2 linked regions of the Homo sapiens genome follow. The protein of the gene in region 1 purifies or fractionates together with the protein of each later gene. This does not show direct contact. Each region holds a gene or a part of one and is shown on either strand. Other genes may lie near its edges.

The links.
Region 2: the proteins of FAM24B (region 1) and GALE purify together in Homo sapiens (affinity purification with mass spectrometry; one large-scale study listed by BioGRID and IntAct). This does not show direct contact.

Annotation. Positions count from the first base shown.
Region 1 is NC_000010.11:122,877,347-122,881,292, reverse strand, and holds the start of FAM24B (protein FAM24B precursor), read left to right. Parts: upstream 1-1,711; 5' UTR 1,712-1,808; intron 1,809-3,946.
Region 2 is NC_000001.11:23,795,099-23,797,754, forward strand, and holds the end of GALE (UDP-glucose 4-epimerase), read right to left. Parts: coding exon 2,597-2,656; intron 2,050-2,596; coding exon 1,936-2,049; intron 1,845-1,935; coding exon 1,778-1,844; intron 1,685-1,777; coding exon 1,599-1,684; intron 1,489-1,598; coding exon 1,411-1,488; intron 1,168-1,410; coding exon 1,053-1,167; intron 910-1,052; coding exon 851-909; 3' UTR 501-850; downstream 1-500. UniProt on the Homo sapiens protein: Catalyzes two distinct but analogous reactions: the reversible epimerization of UDP-glucose to UDP-galactose and the reversible epimerization of UDP-N-acetylglucosamine to UDP-N-acetylgalactosamine.

The DNA of each region.
Region 1 (3,946 bases):
CTAAATAGGCTGGTGTGGCACCACCTTGGGCTTGTAGGTTCCTTAAAAAATATGTGATCAAAGTTTCAGACTGACTGTCAAATTAATTTCTGGAAAACAGACCATTGTGAGTTTATGGAGAGAGTCAAGAAGCAGCAATAAGGACTGCACTCTTGCCTGGACACTTTAACTAGTATGACCCTCTCCAGGCTCACCTCTCCTTTATTAGCTCTAAATTTCTGCATTCCTAAAAATGAGGAAGCTGAACTAGATTGCCTAGAAGATGCTTTAATGGTCTAACCTTCTATGCCATAGTAGGTTTTTATCTTCTCTTCTCTAATGTAAACATCAATGTCAGAGAGTCAATCAATATTGCAAAAGGTGAACAGAATAAAGACACCAATTCAGGAGAACACTTTCCCGTGTACAAGTCACACAACTGTCATCCAAGACAGTACAAACATTCTTGCCCCTACTGGTTCCACAGTACTCCTCTCCTAAGTACACTTCCATATTTCTTGCTGAACTTAAAATGCCAATAGAAGCGATTTCTTCACCTCCATCAGGGCCACACCTCAGGTAAAGGAAGCAGGGGTTTTCATCTTGGTTGTTCAATCTTCTCTTCTAAATCACCAGATTCTGGCTGAGAAGAAAACAGGTGAAAACATCACACAGTATAGTTTCTGAACATGGCTCAAAACCCACTTGTTAGGCCATGAGGTTTATTCTAACAAATGCTCAACACAGAATTCATAAGGAAATGGAGGCATCACACATCAGGGCTTCCCCCTCTATTTTTTCCTCAATCATCAACGTTCTACTCAGTCCCCTGCAATTGATTCTCGGATACATTACTGGACACCTACTGTGTGCACAGGAGTAGGAGCAGAACACAATAGAAGACAAAGTGTATCTTTTTCGAAATTAAGTCGACGGCGGTCGTCTATAGCTGGACTTTTTACACAGCCTGTTTTGGTGGAGAGGAGGTGGCTTGTTTGAGGGTAGATGGGCGGACTGACTTTGATAGCAGCCCTGACGACCCGTCACGCCTGACGGGGACGTTTATGAAATTCCAAGTCCTGGTCACCTTCCCCCGCTCATGCCTCGGGGCCTCGGGTACTTCCCGGCCAGACCTACCCCGCCTCCGCCCACCCCGGTCCTCGCCTCCACCTCGCAGCCCCGCTCCCCCGCAGAGACCCGACACCAACTGCTCTCCTGGATCCCGGACTCAGACCCTCACGTTCCCCGAGGAGCGCGGCAGTCGCCGAGCGCAGCGACCCGGTCGCCGGCGGCCCGGCGCACCGTGGCGCAGGTGGCGCCAGAAGCTCCTCCCAGTCGAAGTCGCGGGCGCAGACACGAGCCCGGGTGAGGAGGCTGTGAGTTAGGGCCCCGCCTGCGGCATCCCAGGAAGAGGCAAGCGTGGGGCGGCGGGTGAGGCCCCCGTCCTCGGACCGCGTGTCCACTGCGCCGCCTCCTGCCAGGCCTCTCTTCCAGTGCTTAAGTGTCGGCCAGTGCAGCGCAGAAACGGGCAGGCAGAGCGACTCCCGGCTTACATCATTTCAAATGCCCGCCGCTTCTGGATTTGGTGAGAACCTGCACCAGAGAAACGCATGCGCATAAGCCAACTGGACTCGAGAGGCGTTCAAACTTTGCTCAGGAAGCGCTAAAGAGCGGAGCATGCGCACTGGCAGGCCCTCGCTCAGCCTTTGGAGACCATGCGCAGGCGCGGTGCACTGTGCGCGGGCACCACGGCGGTTTTTCGACGCTGGCGGTGGACGCAGGCAGCATGGACCACGGTTGCTGGGCGGATGGGGAGCGTCTATGGTCAGGTAGGTGTCGTCTCTTCGCTCTACGCGATGTGCAGGACCGACTCCTGACCTCGTTCTTTCCCGAGTGGACGCCAGGGCCTTTTCTGCCTCCACTCCGTCGGGTCTGCAGCATTTGTGGCAGCGAACGCGGCGGAAGCGCTGTCCATTCGGGTTAATTTTACTCCGAACTCTCCCTGCCTCTCTCATACACATTCTCGCGTTAGAGGGGAGTTGAGGTAGATATTGAACGGCGTTAGTGGTGGACGCTGGGCCACACGGGCCTTCCCCAGGTGCCATCTCATTTGATGCTCCCTGATCCTACGGCGTTGCCAGGACTATGCTGGATGCCCTCGTGACAGAAATCAGAAGGTTGAGAAAGATCCCAGGTGTTTGGATGGAGCGGTCGCCTGAGGGAGTTTTCCAGATGCCCCATGGAATAGGAAGTAGATCTTGCCTCTTTCTTCCTTTTGTACTCCAGATGCATTCTAAGTTGTGTACACCAGACTTCCTGTTCTTTATGCCCAGCCCATTGTAGTCATAAGTTAACTTTGATACATGTCATCATAATTGGACAGTCTAAAGGAAAATAGGCTTTTTAGAATTACCTATCTGAAACTTCATGAGCAAGATCAATACTATAAGCTGGATTTTGACTTCCTTAAATAAGGCAGAAAGCCTACAGCATTTTGTCGTCTCCCCTTTCTTTCAATCTCGTATGTTCAGTATTATCACCCAGTCTTGTTTTATTTTTGGTTTTTAAAGAAAAACTTCCCTGTCTTTCTCCATCTCTGCCTCTCTGTTTTGAAATACTAGCTTTCATCGGAACAATTCCAGGAGTTTCTTTACTGGTTGATAGTCATTATCTCCTCACCTGCGTTTCATTTTCTGCACTGCCCTCTAATCTTTTATCAATTGTCCTGATGCTTGATGCTTTCTGACTGAATCACCATCACCATTACTTTTTTTTTTCTTTTGAGATGGAGTTTCAGTCTGTCACCCAGGCTGGAGTACAGTGGTGTGATCTCGGCTCCTGCAACTTCCGCCTCTTGGGTTCAAGCGATTCTCCTGCCTCAGCCTTCTGAGTAGCTGGGACTACAGGCGTGCACCACCAGGCCCAGCTAATTTTTGTATTTTTAGGAGAGACAGGGTTTTGCCATGTTGGCCAGGCTGGTCTCAAACTCCTGGCTTCAAGTGATCCGCCCGCCTCGGCTCCCAAAAGTGCTGGGATTACAAGCGTGAGCCACCGCACCTGGCCACCATTACTTCTTAACAGGCATACAAAGCCCTTTATCCTTGACTTCTGCCTGCCTCCTAGACCCCCCAGCTTTTGTACATGCTTTTCCCTCTACCTAGAATGCCCCTTCTTTTGGATAGGAAAAATCCTGTTCATCATTTAGTGCCAAGCACAGCCCTCCACACTGTGAGAGAATTTGTCAGTAATTTCTCTCTGCTACACTTAGAGTTTTTAGATACTATAATTCTCTTCTGGTATGGAGCTTTACCAAATAATTCTCACATTTGTTTTCCCAACCATCTGTACAGTTGTTGAAAATAGGAATTGTTTTGTGCCTAGTAGAGATTGAGTATAGGTTTGTTGTATGGAATTGATAGAGATAGCAATAGGGGTTGTTTGGGAACTCTATCACAGTATAACAGGAGTAGAAAGAGGTGAAACTGGCAAATTCAATCTTATTTTCAAAGCTGAAAAAACTTTGCAAAAGTTAGTGAGAAAATTATGACAGTGAAAGAGATCTGAGCTAATCCATCCCCAGTCTTGCCTTGATTATTCTTGGGCTTTTGGGACATTTAGGCTATAGTTTAAATTATCATAGGCCTTCCCCCAAACTCAACTGCTTTTGCATCAGGCTGGCAGGAGGAGAGGAGCCTGGGTCCTGCTAAGGTGCAGACATGAACTATTATCAGTTATTATTCAGAAGGTTATAAGATATGCAACTTCCCCAATTATTCCTGCAGATAACACCACTATTGTAGACTGGCCTTTTGAGATATCTTTTCAGGGTTTTTTTGCATGTCTGACACCCACCATTCCTACAGCCCCACCCAGAAGTGACTCAATGTGCAAGAGGACAGCTTCACCCCTTGTGATTTCATCTCTGCCCCAACTAATCAGCAGCAAGCCTAGCGACCTCCACCACTTC
Region 2 (2,656 bases), on another chromosome or scaffold:
CCCATGGGGCCCCCCCAGGCCCCTGCCCCAACTGATTCTGCCCAGATAATCGTGTCTCCTGCCTCCACTCAGCTGCTTCTCAGTCATGAATGTGGCCATGGCCCCGGGGTCCCCTTGCTGCTGTGGGCTCCCTGTCCCTGGGCAGGAGTGCTGGTGAGGAGGTGGAGCCTTTTGAGGGGGGCCTTCCCTCAGCTGTTTCCCCACACTGGGGGGCTGGGCCCTGCCTCCCCGTTACCCTCCTTCCCTGCAGGCCTGGAGCCTGTAGGGCTGGACTGAGGTTCAGGTCTCCCCCCAGCTGTCTCACCCCCACTTTGTCCCCACTCTAGAGCAGGGAGGCAGTGGGGGAGGAGTTGTGTCTCGTCTTCTGTCTCCATGTGGTTTTTGGGTGTTTTTCTTGTTGTGTCCTGGATTCCGATAAAATTAAAGAAATTGCTTCCTCAACGCTCAGGCCTGGCTGATTCTATTCCAGGGGTGGATAGTGACCATCTGTGAGAACCTGCCCCAGTGTAAGAAAACTTGTTTTTATTTTTAAATACTTTGGAAAGCTCTTTCAGAGCAATATAAATGAGTGCCTGGGAGGAGGAGGTTTTGTGCCAGAGCCTTGCCCCCTCACTCACTCTTGGGGGTCCTGATGAACTCTTGGACCCTGTGGAAGATAAGAGTTAGAGACCTCGGCCTCCTGGTCAGTGGAGCCCTTGGCCTCATGCCTGGTGGGCTAAGCGGGCCCAGCTGGGGTTTGAGGTAGGGGAGGCCTTGGCTTGGCCCCAGCAGCTCCAGGGCCCTGAGTTCCTGCCAGAGGCTGGAGAGCAGGCAGCTGCTGCTTTTCCTGGTCCTTGGTAGGGGAGGGTCCTCAGGCTTGCGTGCCAAAGCCTGAAGGATTCTGCTTCTGCCAGCGCCAGAGATCCTCACCTGCAACACGGCGAGGTGTGTGCTCAGGGCCCACGGTGGAATGCAGAGCCTCCCCCACCCCACAGCCCGCCCTGGGTGGGCATGCCCAGATCTGATTTAGCCCCTCCCTGGCCCCTAACTGCAGGGGTCAGGCCAGCACTCACACATCCTGTCCAGCCCTAAGGCTGCTGTCCACCCCAGCTCCTCTTGGGCCAGGCTGGGGTTGGCGTAACAGGCTGCCACATCACCTTCCCGCCGTGCCACCACCTTGTACGGGATCTGCAAGACAGGAGGTAGTTGGAGCTTAGCTGAGCCGGCCCTGGCCCAGCTGCTGGCCAGGTCTTTAAGAAGCAGAAGTGCAGAGCAGCGGCTGGCCCGCAGGCACCGGGTGCTAGGCAGGCTGAGGAGACTGGGCAGTGCCAGGTACCCTCCAGAGAGGTGAGTGGGAAGGGCCAAAGCTGCTCTGTTGCTGAGAGCTGGGTGGGGTGAGGTGGGTGAGGTGGGTGGGGCGGGGGGGCCTACCTTCTTCCCAGAGGCCTTCTCCATAGCCTGGACCATCTGCAGCACTGAATAGCCTGTGCCCGTGCCCAGGTTGTAGATCTGGCCCACGGAGAACAGGGTTTATGGAGCGGGCTGGACTGACCACGCCTCTGGGCCGCTCTGCCTGGATCTGGTCCCTCCCCTCCCTCACTTCTCCCTTCTCTTCCTACCCGGCAGCCACACTGTTCTTTCAGCTTCCTTAAGGCTGCAATGTGGCCCTTGGCCAGATCCACGACATGGATGTAATCCCGGACACCTGCAGAGAAGGGAGTGTGTTGGATGGGGAGTCTGTTCCCCCTGACTCTCCTTCCTGGCTCCCACTCCTAGGTCCCCCTGGTCCTAGGCTCACCTGTGCCATCCTCTGTGTCATAGTCATTGCCAAAGACATTCAGGGCCTCCCGTCGCCCGATCGCCACCTGGAGGTGGAGATCAGGTCAGTTCGTCCCAGATCCCAGGCACCAGCTTTAACCCCAGGGCCACTCCTCTGTCCCTTCCCTTTTGCCTTACCTGGGAGACATAAGGCATGAGGTTGTTGGGTATGCCCTGGGGATCCTCACCAATGCAGCCAGAGGCATGGGCACCTGTGGGGTTGAAATAGCGCAGCAGCACTGCGTTCCAAGTCTGTGGGATGTGGGTCAGGTGGTGAGGCCAGAGGCACAGGCAGCGTGTCCCAGCTGAACCCAGAGCCCTCCTCATGCCTATTCTGTTTTTTTGAGATGGAGTCTCACTATGGCCCAGGCTGGAGTGTAGTGGCCTGATTTGGCTCACTTCAACCTCTGCCTTCCAGGTTCAAGCAATTCTTGTGCCTCAGCCTCCCGAATAGCTGGGACCACAGGCACACACCACCATGGCCGGCTAATGTTTGTATTTTTAGTAGAGATGGGGGTTTTACCATGTTGTCCAGGCTGGTCTTGAACTCCTGACCTCAGGTGATCTGCCCACCTGGGCCTCCCAAAGTGCTGAGATTACAGGTATGAGCCACTGCGCCCGGCCAGTTGTCTATTTATTATCTTTAGAAACAAGCAGGGGATGGGGCCCTCCACTGCAACTGCCTGAGCCTTAGCTTCCTCCTTAGTGGGGGTGTTCGGAATCCCACCCCTGGGCTCAGGGTGGGCCCTGAGGAGTCCATCGATCAGTGGAGCCAGGGCACTGTCAAGGGGGCCCTCACCTTGTCTGCCTGGCACAGGTCCCGGATCATTTCCTCGATGAAGAACTTGGACTTGCCGTA